Homo sapiens: one gene and its partner. The protein of the gene in region 1 binds, or shares a complex with, the protein of each later gene. Each region holds a gene or a part of one and is shown on either strand. Other genes may lie near its edges.

The links. The genes of interacting proteins can lie anywhere in the genome.
Region 2: VPS54 (region 1) and VPS51 share a complex: the UniProt entries of both Homo sapiens proteins name them as parts of the golgi-associated retrograde protein (GARP) complex.

Annotation. Positions count from the first base shown.
Region 1 is NC_000002.12:64,016,393-64,023,387, forward strand, and holds the start of VPS54 (vacuolar protein sorting-associated protein 54), read right to left. Parts: upstream 3,037-6,995; 5' UTR 2,546-3,036; intron 1-2,545. UniProt on the Homo sapiens protein: Acts as a component of the GARP complex that is involved in retrograde transport from early and late endosomes to the trans-Golgi network (TGN).
Region 2 is NC_000011.10:65,099,178-65,106,213, reverse strand, and holds part of VPS51 (vacuolar protein sorting-associated protein 51 homolog), read right to left. Parts: intron 1-7,036. UniProt on the Homo sapiens protein: Acts as a component of the GARP complex that is involved in retrograde transport from early and late endosomes to the trans-Golgi network (TGN).

The sequences.
Region 1 (6,995 bases):
AGCTATGAGCCAAGAAGCATTATATGAAAGGCCCACATTAGGCCAATATTGAGACAGAAAGTAGACTAGTGGTTGCCTAAAGCTGGGGGTGGGGTGAAGAGAATGGGGAGTAACTGTTAATGGATAAAGGTTTTTTGAGGGAATGATGAAAATGTTCTAAAATTAGATTATGGTGATGGTTGCACAATTATTTAATCTAAAAACCACTGAATTGTATATTTTTTTTTTTTTTTTGAGATGGAGTCTCGTTCTGTCACCCAGCCTGTAGTGCAGTGGTGCTATCTTGGCTCACTGCAACCTCCACCTCCCAGGTTCAAGCGATTCGCCAGCCTCAGCCTCCCCAGTAGCTGGGATGACAGGCGCTCACCCCCATGCCCGGCTAATTTATATATTTTTAGTACAGACGGGGTTTCACCATGTTGGCTAGGCTGGTCTCGAACTCTGGACCTCAGGTGATCTACCTGACTAGGCTTCCCAAAGTGGTGGGATTACAGGTGTGAGCCACTGAACCCGGCCAAGTGGTACACCTTAAATGGGTGTATTTTATGGTATGTTAATTTTATCTCAATAAAGCAGTTTTTAAAAAGCAAAGAGCAGGAAAGAGGAATTGTAATTAACTTTTGTTGATTAAAAAAAAAAAAAAAAAAAAAAAGAGTGTGATGGGCCGGGGCCGGGGCGGTGGCTCACACCTCTAATCCCAGCACTCTGGGAGGCCGAGGCCGGTGGATCACAAGGTCAGGAGTTCAAGACCAGCCTGGCTAATATGGTGAAACCCCCGTCTCTACTAAAAATACAAAAATCAGCCAGGCGTGGGGGCGCCTGTAGTCCCAGCTACTCAGGAGACTGAGGCAGAAGAATCACTTGAAGCCGGTAGGCGGAGGTTGCGGTGAGCCAAGATAGCGCCACTGCACTCCAGCCTGGGCAACAGAGCAAGACCCCGTCTCAAAAAAAAAAAAAGAAAAGAAACAAAAAAAAAGAGTGTGATGAAGAAATTCTGCAAAATTTGCCGTTTCATGGGCTATATAGGAATTGACTTTAATTCTGACACAAAAAATTATCTTATCCAGAAATCAATTTTAACTTTCCAGAAAATATAAGCATATGCAAAAGTAATCACCTTTTCCTAGTAAACTTTTAGTATTAAATTCTAATTTCAAAAACACTTCAGAAAGCCAAATGCTGTAGTAACAATACTTCTACAAGAACAAAATATACGAATATCAACAACAAAACAGTCTTTACGATTTGGTTGTGATGCATTCTTTATTTTAAAAACCCATTAAAACATTTTTCATTTATTTAAAAAAGTGATCCTCAGACTGCCTCTTAGATTGGTAGTGTAATAATTCTTAAGTTATCAGAACATAATTTAAAAATAGCCAAATTACAATAAAATCGCAAACATCTACTGTCGTCCCAAACAACTATCAATTACAGCTACTGGTAACCTATCATAAGCAATGATGAGCACTACGAACCATCAACATCCATTTCTAGGAAATCCGATTCTGACTACACTACAAATACAGTCAAACAAATCCCATCATTCCCTCTGTTCCATCATTTAACTGCTTAGAAATCATTTAGGCTCTGAAGGTGCTTTTTCCAATTAGAACTCCCCTTCGGATTTATAAAAGTGAATGTACATCAAAATCTGCAGTTTAGGTTATCGCAGTAATATTTCTCGGTATACTACAAGTAATTTATCACGGTATTACTTAAAGGCGTTTAGTATTAAGACCGCCCTTGATTTGACAAATCAGAAATACAGCCAATTAAAAACAAAAACAGTCCAAACAATTTAATTCTTCGAAAGAGCCTCAATAAAGACCAAAAAATAAAGCTGGTTAGAAGAAAAAAATTTTTTTTTGAAACGCCTGTCAGTCAAAATGCTAAAAATACCATCTTGAACTCAACACATGAACAGACCAAACGGCTAATTATAATTGGCAAGCCAAAGTTCCCAAGTCAACGACGGGAGAGCAGAAACGGCAGAGAGGGCCTGCCCTTTCTGTCTATGCAGAGATGGAAGGAGGCAGAACTGAAGAAAATTATTGCACAAATTATTTCAAGCTACATTGCCAAAATGCAAAATACTGAGTAACTCTTTGGGTTAGCCTTCCCCGGAGAGAAAAACAAACAAATGTTTTAACGATTCCAGTAGAATCCAATAGGACTAAGGGCCTGGCTGGAAAAAGAAAAGGAAAGTTTGGGGGCAGCGTCTAAGGGGGTGATGGAAGTTCCAGAGCTGGGATCCCGGAAAGATAAGAGAGGGGCAAGAGCGGCGTTTGCGGTCGCTGACAGGAGGCAGGGAACACAGCTGCCAGCCCCGATCCCGGAGGGAGAGTGAAAAGGAAAAAAAAAAAAAAAAAAGGAAGTGGCGGAGAGGAGCATGGAAGCTTCAGTGCCGGTCAGCTGTGACCGAAACTCGGTCCGTTTGGGGCTGGGGAGGAGAGCCGAGGGGGTGGGGTCTCGGTCCCTCTCTCCGCTGTAGGTCGGGGTGAGAGTGGGCTGAGACGCGCGGGGGGCCGCGGGGCACACCTACCTGCGGGTCCCGGGGCAGCCGCCCTGAGCGAGGCCTAGTGCATCGCCGCCGCCTCCAGCCCTCCACGTCGCACCGAGGCTGCTGCTCCACGGCCGCCGCCGCCCGGCGCCCGGCCGGGCCCGAGCCCGGGTTCCCGCCCCCGCCCCGCGCCCGCTGGCCAGTCGGCCCGGGGAGCACAGGGCCGCCCTCTCGAGCCCAGCTTCACTCAGGGGTGAGAGGTGGCAGCGGCGGCTCCCTCACGTCTCTCCCGGGTGTCCTGTCAGCCAGCAGTTTCCCCCGGGTCCGCAGCGCCGCCTCCGCCGCTGCTGCCACCGCCTCTCCCACATCCCCGGCCTCCAGGGGAGCCGCCGCCGCCGCGCCACGACCACTGCCTCTAGCGCTTCTGCTCCCGACTCCACTGCTTTCCCTCACCCCGCCGGCCCAGCCGGCTCGGCCCGGTCGGGTGCGGGGAGACAGCGCCGGAGGCCGCCGCAGCCCCCAGCCCACAATCCACCGCGCGGCTCCGCCGGGGCGGGAGGGCCGCGGCCCGGGCCGGGGGGAGCGCCCGCCGCCTGGGGAAAGCGGCCTTGGCGCAGGCCGGCGTGCCCGTCGCAGGCGCAGCCAGAGTTCTCTCGGGGCGGGGAATACACCGCGTGGCTCCCCTGCGCCTCCTCTAATAGTCCTACACGCAGACAAATCCACGCTGAATTCCACTTTCCCCACCACCCTTCCCCCCAACTCCCAGTTTTCAGGAACACCCAGAAAACCTCCTGCCGCCTTCCCCGGGACTGGGACGCGACCCCTCCAGCGTAGCCCTCGCCACCCCCAAGACCAACCGACTCGAAACATCCCTAAATCACCCGGGACCTATTAAAGCAAATACTTCCACGAGATTCCTCCTCTCCCCCACCCCCTCGAAGTAAATGCTTTTCAGCTGTTCCCTAGTAAATGCCCTTCCAAAGGTTAAAGGTCACCCCTCCGCAACAACCCAGTTCTCTCTATTGAGGCCTTTTCCCCATCCAGTCCTCCCCTCCAAGTCTTCCCCAAGTTCCAGGCCTTCCTCCCAGACACTGTAATCAGTTATTCCTGTTACTTGACTGAGATACTTGGAGTGTGTATGATAATTAATACCTTCTAATTCTGACTTCAGCCTGGTTTCACAGGACTTGCAACTTTAAACCAATAAAACACAGTCCACAAGAAAGGGAAGGTCTTAGTATATAAATATAAAGACACACACACACACACACACACACATATATTTTAGGAAGAAAAAGATCCTCAATCCTTTGAGTGCTTGTGACTTAATTTTGGGAAGATTTTATTCAATGTTGAAATTCTTGCCTAAAAATAAATTTCAAGCATTTATAAGACATAGTATGTTTTAACAAATCAAAAGTGAAAATGTAACTCTTATAGTTGGGGGGTTGAAAAAAATGTTGATCCAAGTTTCACTTCTAAGAAGTCACTTTGAAAACTGCAAACATAACTTTTATGAAATAATATTTTCCCCACCAAAGAGCTAAAGTTGGGGAAAGAGGACAAAAAGTAAGGAAGCATCAAAAATAGTTGAGAGAAAACTCTTACATTATATTTTTCTAAGTTCAATCCTCTAAAATTATGTAAGAAACAAAGTGAGAAAATCATTCCCCAATATGAAATAAATTTAACTGTAAAAGAGTGAAGTCCTCTTAAATCCCTGATCACTTATAAAACCAGATGAGTTTACATAGAAGCAGAGTAGAATGGTGGTTACCAAAGACTGGGGGGTAAAGGGTGATGAGGAAAGGGGAAATGTGAGTCAAAGGGTATAAAGTTTCAGGTAGGAGGAATAAATTTTAGTGATCTATTGCACAGCACGATGACCACAGTTAATAACAATGTATTTAATATTCCAGAATAGCTAAAAGAGTACTTTCTTTGTTTTGTTTTGTTGAGACTGTGTCTGGCTCTGTTGCCCAGGCCAGAGTGCAGTGGCATGATCTTGGCTCACTGCAACCTCTGCCTCCCAGGTTGAAGCAATTCTCCTGCCTCAGCCTCCCGAGCCGCTGGGACTACAGGCGCGCACCACCACGCCCAGCTAATTTTTGTATTTTTAGTAGAGACGGGGTTTCACCATATTTGCCAGGCTGGTCTCCAAACTCTTGACCTCGTGATCCACCTGCCTCAGCCTCCCAAAGTGCTGGGATTACAGGCATGAGCCACCACGCCCAGCCAAGAGTACATTTTAAATGTTCTCACCATAAAAAAAATAAGCTGGGTACAGTGGCCCACACTTGTAGTCTCAGCTGAAGTGGAAGGATGCCTTGAAACTAGCAGTTTGAGTCCAGCCTGGACAACATAGCCAGACACCATCTCTTAAAAAAAAAAAAAAAAGTAGGTGAGGTGAAAGATATGTTAATTAGCTTGGTTTAGTTATTCCACAGTGTGTACATATATCAAAACATCACATTGGATCCTATAAATATATATAATTATTATTTGTCAGTTTAAAAATTTTTTATTAAAAAAGATGTGTTTATACTGTGAAAATATTAACAAGAGGATTAACCAAGTTTTATCTAAGGCCAGAAAGGAAAATAATTTTTCTTTATGTCTAGAATCAGTTCATAGATTATGCTAGGAATTGGATTTAGCAAATTCTTATATTTTGACCCCCCTCAGGAAGTCAACAACAGTTCAAAAACTTCCTTAAGCCTGGCTGGTTTGGCCTTTAAAAAAATATTTGTGTTTATACCCCACCTTGTTCCAGAAAAGATTCCAACTTGGCACTTGGACTAAATGATAGCCGTCAGTTGTCTCCCAGACACTAGAACAAGACAGTCTGGTTTGCTTCCTCATTATCCATCTGTTGATAACATACCATAGGAAGAAAATACACATTGAGTGTCGTGCTTAGTTCTTTCAGAGATCCAGCTCAATGTTTACTTTTACTTTTACTTTTCCACAGAACAATTCATAATCTTGAATCTAAACAGGAAAGTAAATGCTGATGATCAGGTTTGCAAAAATTTTTTTAAAGTGTGTAAACTGGGCAAGCAATTTCATTTAAACCTAGATAAATTTCAAATTAATTACTATGTTCACTTGCTATCACTTGAATCATTTCAGTCAGTATGAGAGCTAAAAGCCAAATCACAAATAAATAGGTATAGATATATTATTAGTGTACATTTCCAGAAAGCACAGATGATAGAAAATTAAGAAATTAATACAAAATTAAGAAATGGATAGGAGTTAAGATTCCATCATTGCCTTCAAAAAAAGGAATCAGGAAGAAAATATTTAGCTACCATGTCACTAACACTGTATTTGGCATATTTATTATATCTGTTACCGACCAATCACATGAAAAGTGATAGTCCATCAAGGTTATATGTTCTAATTAGAGGGAGAATGGCAAATTTTCTAATGCCATAACACCTATAAAAGGGCTATGTTTATGTTTACTGTGTATTCTGTGCATATTTGTATAGGTGGCAGTAGTAAGGTTAACATAGCTACTCAATCACTGAACACTGCCTTTCTTTTTTTTTTTTTTGAGATGGAGTCTTGCTCTGTCACCCAGGCTAGAGTGCAGTGGCACGATCTCGACTCACTGCAAGCTCCACCTCCCAGGTTCATACCATTCTCCTGCCTCAGCCTCCCAATATAGCTGGGACTACAGGCGCCCGCCTCCACGCCTGGCTAATTTTTTGTATTTTTAGTAGAGACGGGGTTTCACCGTGTTAGCCAGGATGGTCGTGATCTCCTGACCTCACGATCTGCCCGCCTCGGCCTCCCCAAGTGCTGGGATTACAGGCGTGAGCCACCATGTCCGGCCTGAACATTGCCTTTCTAATGATTTATTTGATAGAAACTATACATTCCCGTGCTATATAAATACAGAGGGGAAAGGGGGCACTGATAGAATGAACAATGAGAAAAATAATTTTCCAATTTAGTAAGATAGAAGCACTAGCTTCTTTTTTCTGTGATAGCAAACCTTGAATCTATGCAATGGAAACCCATCCACATTCTTAACCTACTCTACAGCTAAATATGTGTAATTATATTGTGTGTTTAGTATAAATAAGCTATCTTTGATAAGCAAGATTTACATGCACTAATGAACTGAAGGTGTCAAGCTGGTAATTGTTTCATTAGGGTTTGGATCCAATAATGTCCTGAATTATTTTATGCATCATATTTGAGCTATTCTTAAATGTTATATATATAAATATATAATTATATGTGTTTTTATAATTTAAAAAATTTTACAATTTTTGATACAGCTAATATATAGTATATAAAAATATAAATGATAATTTATAACAATATGACTCTAACCTGAAACTGTGTTTTGATATTTCTTCATAGGTAATATAGGACTATCTTAATGTAGGAAAACTTTCCAGTTTACTTTGAGTATGGTGTAAGATATTAAAGCTAAATGTAGATATAAGCACCACTAGAAAATTTATAATATTTT
Region 2 (7,036 bases), on another chromosome or scaffold:
GAAGGTCTACCTGCAACATTTTCTTTGTAAGCCACTATCATCTCTTGTCCAACAACTGCCAACATTTCCCAACTAATTTCCCTAATTCCATTGAACATACCAACAATGTTCATAAAGAAAGGCGAAGAGGATAAGACAGAAATGTGTATCTGTAACAGGAGATATTTTGGTTTTGTTTTGTTTGAGAAAGAGTCTCACTCTGTCACCCAGGCTGGAGTGCAGTGGCGCGATCTCAGCTCTGGAGGCTCCTGGAGGGTGGCACGCCCGGGGAGGGCATGGAAACTCCATGCTCCTTCTCCTACACCTCGCCCTATGCACCTGCTCATCTGTACCCTTTGTAACATCCTTTGTAATAAACTGGTAAATGTGTTATCCTGAGCTCTGTGAGCCACTCCAGCAAACTGAGCCCAAAGAGGGAGTTATGGAAACCCCTACCTGGAGCCAGTTGGTCAGAAATTCTGGAGGCCTGAGGCCCTGACCTGCAGCTAGTGCCTGAAAGTGGGGAGGCAGATTTGGGACTGAACTAGTGCCTGAAGGGAGGCAGGCTTGGGGACTCAGCCCTCAACTCATGGAATCTGATGCTATCTCTGGGTAAATAGTGTTGGAATTAAATCAGAGGACACCCAGCGGGTGTCTGCTGCTTGGTGTGTGGGGAAGAAACCCAACACATTTGGTCACAGAACTCTTCTGTGGTCATGATTGTGGTGATGTGAGAGCATAGGAAGCACACAGTTTGCATTTTTCCCAAACAATGCCATAAAATATATACAAACCTTTCCATATGGTAGATCACAAAGAAAAAAACCTCATTCTTTTTTTTTTTTTGAGACAGGGTCTCCCTCCGTCGCCCAGGCTGCAGTGCAGTGGCGCGATCTCAGCTCACTGCAACCTCCACCTCCTGGGTTCAAGCGATTCTCCTGCCTCAGCCCCGAGTAGCTGGGATTACAGGCACGTGCCACCATGCCTGGCTAATTTTTGTACTTTTAGTAGAGAGGGTTTCACCATGTTGGCCAGACTGGTCTCTGACCTCAAGTGATCCACCCGCCTCGGCCTCCCAAAGTGCTGGGATTACAGGCGGGAGCCACCGTGCCCAGTCGAAAAAACCTCATTGTTAACCAATTATGAGGTCAGAAAAGGAAATCAAAACTGAAATTGCAGCATGGGTAAAATACCAAGAAAACACTAAATTGGTAAGGGCTTGGTGAATTCTATGGATGAAATGGATAATTTGCTACAAAAATAGGATTTACCAAAATGGATTGCAAAAAACAAGAAAACAGAAACAGAAAAACTAGAGAATGTTGTGAAAGAAAGGTCCTACTCCCCTTTCCCCTCCACACAAAGGCATCTGGCCCAGATGTCCAGGGGTGTTGCGGCGGCTTGAAGGACAGCGCCTTCCAATTCTCTGTGTAAACACTGCCCCAGCAGAGAAACGAGAACAGCTCTCACACAAACTTGATGGAACAAACATAACACTGTTATGAAAACATAACAGAAATACCTCACATATACACATTCATATCTCTTATGAATGGAGATGCAAGGATGAATTAAATAAACAAATGGAGATGCACAAATAAGCAAACAAAATCCAGCAGCATATTAAAATAATAATTGATAAACACAAAAGGGTTTTTGTTTCATGAATGCCAGGATGACTCAAAATTAGAGGATCTCATAATAATTTGCCATGTTAATAGATATTTCAACATCTATTCTTGATTTTTAAAAAACTCTCAATAACATATGAGCAGCTAAATATTTCCCTGACCTCCAAAACTCAGTATCATGTTTACCGAGGCAGTGCTAGAAGCACTCCAATTAAAGTCAAAACATGGCAAGGACAACCTTGATTGCCAATGTTATCTACATTGTTCTGGGGCATTAGCCAACTCAGCTAGAGTCACGAGATGTATTATGGAGATACACAAATTGGAAAGGAGGGAGAAGTATCACTATTTGCAGATGATATAATCAAATAAATAGGCCAGCCACGGTAGCTCATGCCTGTAATCCCAGCACTTTGGGAGGCCGAGGCAGGCAGATCACTTGACGTCAGGAGTTTGAGACCAGCCTGGCCAACATGGTAAAACCCTGTCTCTAGTAAAAATACAAAAAGTAGTTGGGCGTGGTGGCAGGTGCCTGTAATCCTAGCTACTGGGAAGGCTGAGGCAGGAGAATCGCTTGAACCCTGGAGGCACAAGTTGTAGTGAGCTGAGATTGTGCCACTGCACTCTAACCTGAGTAATAGAGCAACACTCTGTCTCAAATAATAATAATTGAATAAATAGAAAGCCCTAAAAAAAAAAAACAAAAAAAAACACCCTGTAAACGTTACTATAAACAATAAGAGATACCACTTTTCACTTCTCAGATTGTCAAAGATTGAAAGAGGTATTCTCTTCTTTGCTGGTGGTTATGCAAACTGATCAGCATTTACAAAGAAGAATCTGGAAATATCTAACTGCAATCACTTGTGAGCCTTCACACACCCACACCTGGTCTGTGTGTGGCTCTGGGACTGTAGGAATGTTCTCCAAGCAACACTGGGAATCTACCCCACTTGGGGAGACAGCTGGAAGGGTGAGTAAGGAGAAAAGCATTGATGTCAATTTGACAAGAAACAAACAGAAACAAAAAATGCAGGAAAAAAATATTAGAGAAAATATAAGAGAAAGAACTGTCTGAGACAAAGAATCTACAGGGCTCACATCTGTAGAGCTATTAAGGGATTTTTTAAAAAATTACATGGAAAGGTAGATTACGTATCAGCAAAATGGACTTTTCATTTTAACAACACAGTCCACAAGAAAGGATCATTTAGCCCTCTTAGAGATGATTTCATAGAAAGGAAGGTTACTAAGGAATAAAATCACATGATGTGAAACATCTATATTACTTTTGGGACCATAGGGACCATTGCCTGCATTTTGTTGGGGAAATCATAATTATTTTGAGTTTCTTTGCTTGAGATAGGGTCTTGCTCTGTCTACAGGCATGGTGATGCACACTTATAATCCCAGCTACTCAGGAGGCTAAGGCAGGAGAATCACCTTAACTGGGGAGGCGGAGGTTACAGTGAGCCAAGATGGCATGCAGTGGTGCAAACACAGCTTACTGCAGCCTTGAACTCTGGGGCTCAAGTGATCCTCCTACCTTAGCTTCTGAAGTAGCTGGGACTACACACAAGCGCCATCACACCCGGCTAATTTTTTAATTTTTGTTTAAATTTTGTGTAGAGATGGGGTCTCTCTATGTTGCCCAGGCTGGTCTCAAACTTCTGGGCTCAAGCAATGCTCCCACTTCAGCCTCCCAAAGTGCTGGGAGCACAGGAGTGAGCCACTGTGCCTGGCAAGAAAATTTTTCTTGCCAATTCATAGATGGTGAACTAAAGGACATAGCAAAGGCAGCGCTATGCAGTGAAAAACAATAAAAGCAGAGCCGAGGCTGAGGTTCGTAAAGGGATCATGGGCTACTGATCTAAGGGAGACAGACAGAGGCTTGGCAGTTGATGAGGCATTTGGTCTTCACCCAGTGAATTACTGGTTTTGTTTACAGGCCATGTGACACAATCTCCTTCCAGGTCTGCCAAAAGCTACCATGAAAAGAGCAGACTCTTTTGGTAGTGGGTGTTTGAGCCCATGACACTTAGGGGCTACCTCAAGAAGGAAGCTTGAATCCAACTTCTAAAGGGTAAAATCCAAACACTAAGTTGTTAGGAAAATAGAGTAAAAGAAAACCCAACAGTGCTGTGTGCTGTCATTGTCGCTGCCTTCCCAGCCATGGAGCCATTACACTGGAGATAAAAGTTGTACCATATCCAAAAACAACAGTGAAAGCATCCACACCATTCAGTCACAAAGACTACACTGTTTATCTTTGCATTTCAAGCTTGTTAAGAAAAGCAGGCTGGGCACAGTGGCTCACGCCTGTAACCCCAGCACTTTGGGAGGCCAAGGCAGGTGGATCACCTGAGGTCACCTGCCTGACCAACATGGTGAAATCCCGTCTCTACTGAAAATACAATAATTAGCCAAGTGTGGTGGCAGGTGCCTGTAATCCCAGGTACTTGGAAGCCTAAGACAGGAGAATCACTTGAACCCCGGAGGCGGAGGTTGCAGTGAGCCGATTGGGCCACTGCACTCTAGCCTGGATGACAGAGCAAGACTCTGTCTCAAAAAAAAAAAAAAAAAAAAGCTTGTTAAGAAAAGCAGTTTGTAACCAGGGAGAGTGAAAGCCATCTGGATGCGAGGATGTTGGCTACCTTGGGAGGGGACTGGGTGGTAACTGGTAGGAGGCTCAGGGGGCTTTGCTGGTTATGCTGTTTCCCGACCTGGATGCTGATTATGTGACTGTGCTCCCTTTGTGAAATCCATGGAGCTGTCCACTTATGTGCACTTTTCTGTATGTCTGTTAATTTTCTTTTTTTTTTTTTTTTTTTTTTTTTTTTTGAGACAAGGTCTGGCTCTGTCACCCAGGCTGGAGTGCAGTGACACAATCTTGGCTTACTGCAACCTCTGCCTCCCAGGTACAAGCCTTCCACCTCAGCTTCCTGAGCAGCTCGGACTACAGGGACACAACACCACACCCAGCTAATTTTTGTATTTTTTGTAGAGACAGGTATAACCTGTTGGCCAGGATGGTCTCGAACTCCTGAGCTCAAGCAATCTGCCTGCCTCTGCCTCACAAAGTGTTGGGATTATAGGTATGAGCCATAATCCCACCTGGGCTCTGTTAATTTTCAGTGAAATGTACTGTCAAAGACTGCTTTGTCTTTGCCTAGAGAAAAGAATTAGGAGAGGCTTTTCCCTGTATAATGTTTGAGATCTTTCTAATTTTGACACAAGTAAATGCATTATTACATAATGAAACTCAATGTCTAGGTGAGAGGTTGGCAAACTACAGCCTGCAGGCCAAATCTGGCTCAATGCCTGGTTTTCTTTTTAATTGGGATATAATTGACATACCAATTCAGTGGTTTTTAATATGTTTAATATATTCACAAGGTTGTACAACCAACCTCACTACGTAATTCCAGAACATTTCATCATCCCCTAAAGAAACCCTGTAACCCTTGGCAGTCATTCCTTATTCCCCCACTCCTAGAACTTGGCAACCATTAATCTAGTTTCTGTCTCTATGGATTTGTCTATTCGCTACAGAATACATTTAACAGAAATGGAATCATAGGCATATGAAACATTAGCATGTTTCCAAGGTTAATCTATGTTGTAGCCTGTGTCAGTATGTTATATCTATTTTTATGGCTGAATAATATTCCACTGTGTGGATATTTGTTTATATTCATTCAATTGATGGCCATTTGGATTGCTTCCACCTTGTGGCTATTATAAAAAGTGCTGCTATTGGCCAGGCATGGTGGCTCTTGCCTGTAATCCCAGTACTTTGGGAAGCCGAGGCAAGCGGATCACTTGAGGTCAGGAGTTCAAGACCAGCCTGGCCAACAAGGTGGAATCCCGTCTCTAGTAAATATACAAAAAATAAAAATAAAAAAATTAGGCGGGTGTGATGGTGCACACCTATAATCCCAGCTACTCAGGAGGCTGAGGCAGGAGAATCGCTTGAACTGGGGAGGCGGAGGTTACAGTGAGCCAAGATGGCACCACTGCACTCTAGCCTGGGTGACAGAGCTAGACTCCATCTCAAAAAAAAAAAAAAAAAAAAAAACACTGCTATGAACACTTGTGTACATGTTTTTATGTGAACATGTTTTCAATTCTCTTTGGTATATTCCTAGGAGTAAAATTGCCGATCATATGGTAATCTTGTGTGTGGTTTTGAAGAATGGTCAAACTGTCTTCCACACTGGGTGCAGCATTTTGTGGTTTGGATTTGCATTTCCCTAAGACCTAATGATGCTGAGCATATTTATATGTGCTTTTCGGCCACTTGTATGTTTTCTCTGGAGAAGTGTCTATTCAAATCCTTTGCCCATTTTAAATTAGGGTTATTTGTCTTTTTAGCCCTGAGCTAAAAAACGTTCTTTTTATGTTCTGAACACTAGATTTTTATTAGATAACTAACTTGCAAATATTTTCTCCCATTCTGTGGGCTGTCCTTTTATTATTATTTATTATTATTATTATTTTTGAGACGGAGTCTCGCTCTGTTGCCCAGGCTGGAGTGCAGTGGCGCGATCTCGACTCACTGCAACCTCCGCCTCCTGGGTTCAAGCGATTCTCCTGCCTCAGCCTCCTGAGTAGCTGGGACTACAGATGCCTGCCACCATGCCTGACTAATTTTTGTATTTTTAGTAGAGATGGGGTTTCACCATATTGGCCAGCCTGGTCTCAAATGCCTGACCTCAGATGATCCACCCGTCTCGGCCTCTCAGAGTGCTAAGATTATAGGCATAAGCCACCGCACCTGGCCTTTTTATTTATTTATTTATTTTTTGAGACTAGGTCTTGCTCTGTCACCCAGGCTAGAGTGCAATGGTGAGATTATAGCTCACTGCAATCTCCAGCTCCTGGGCTCATGTGATCCACCCACCTTAGCCTCCCCAAGTAGCTGGGTTTATTCTAACAAGTGTGTGCCACCATACCCAGCTATTTTTTTTTTTCTAGATATCGGGTCTCACTATGTTGCACAGGCTGGTCTCAAACTCCTGGGCTCAAGTGATCCTCCCACCTCAGCCTTCCAAAGTGCAGGGATTACAGGCATGAGCCACTGTGCTCAGCCCCATCCATTCCTGCCAGTGCAGCTGGAGGAATCTATTCAAACCAGAAATCTGAGCACATCACTCATTTGTTTTAGCTCTCTGTGGATAAAAGCCAAATCCCTAATACATTCTGGAAGGTTTCTAGTTAAACTGCACATCTACTATCTGCCTGGCTCTGCCCACATTCTGCTTCCCCTCCTGCTACCATAGATGAGCTCCCGGCCCTTTGCTGAGGCCGATGCCTCCATCCCTGCTCTGTTCCACCCCCCTCCTTCCTGAGGACCTAGTTCCTTTCTCATTTTTCTCTCTCTCTTGCCCAATCAACACACACTCCATGCTACATTACTTTCCTGA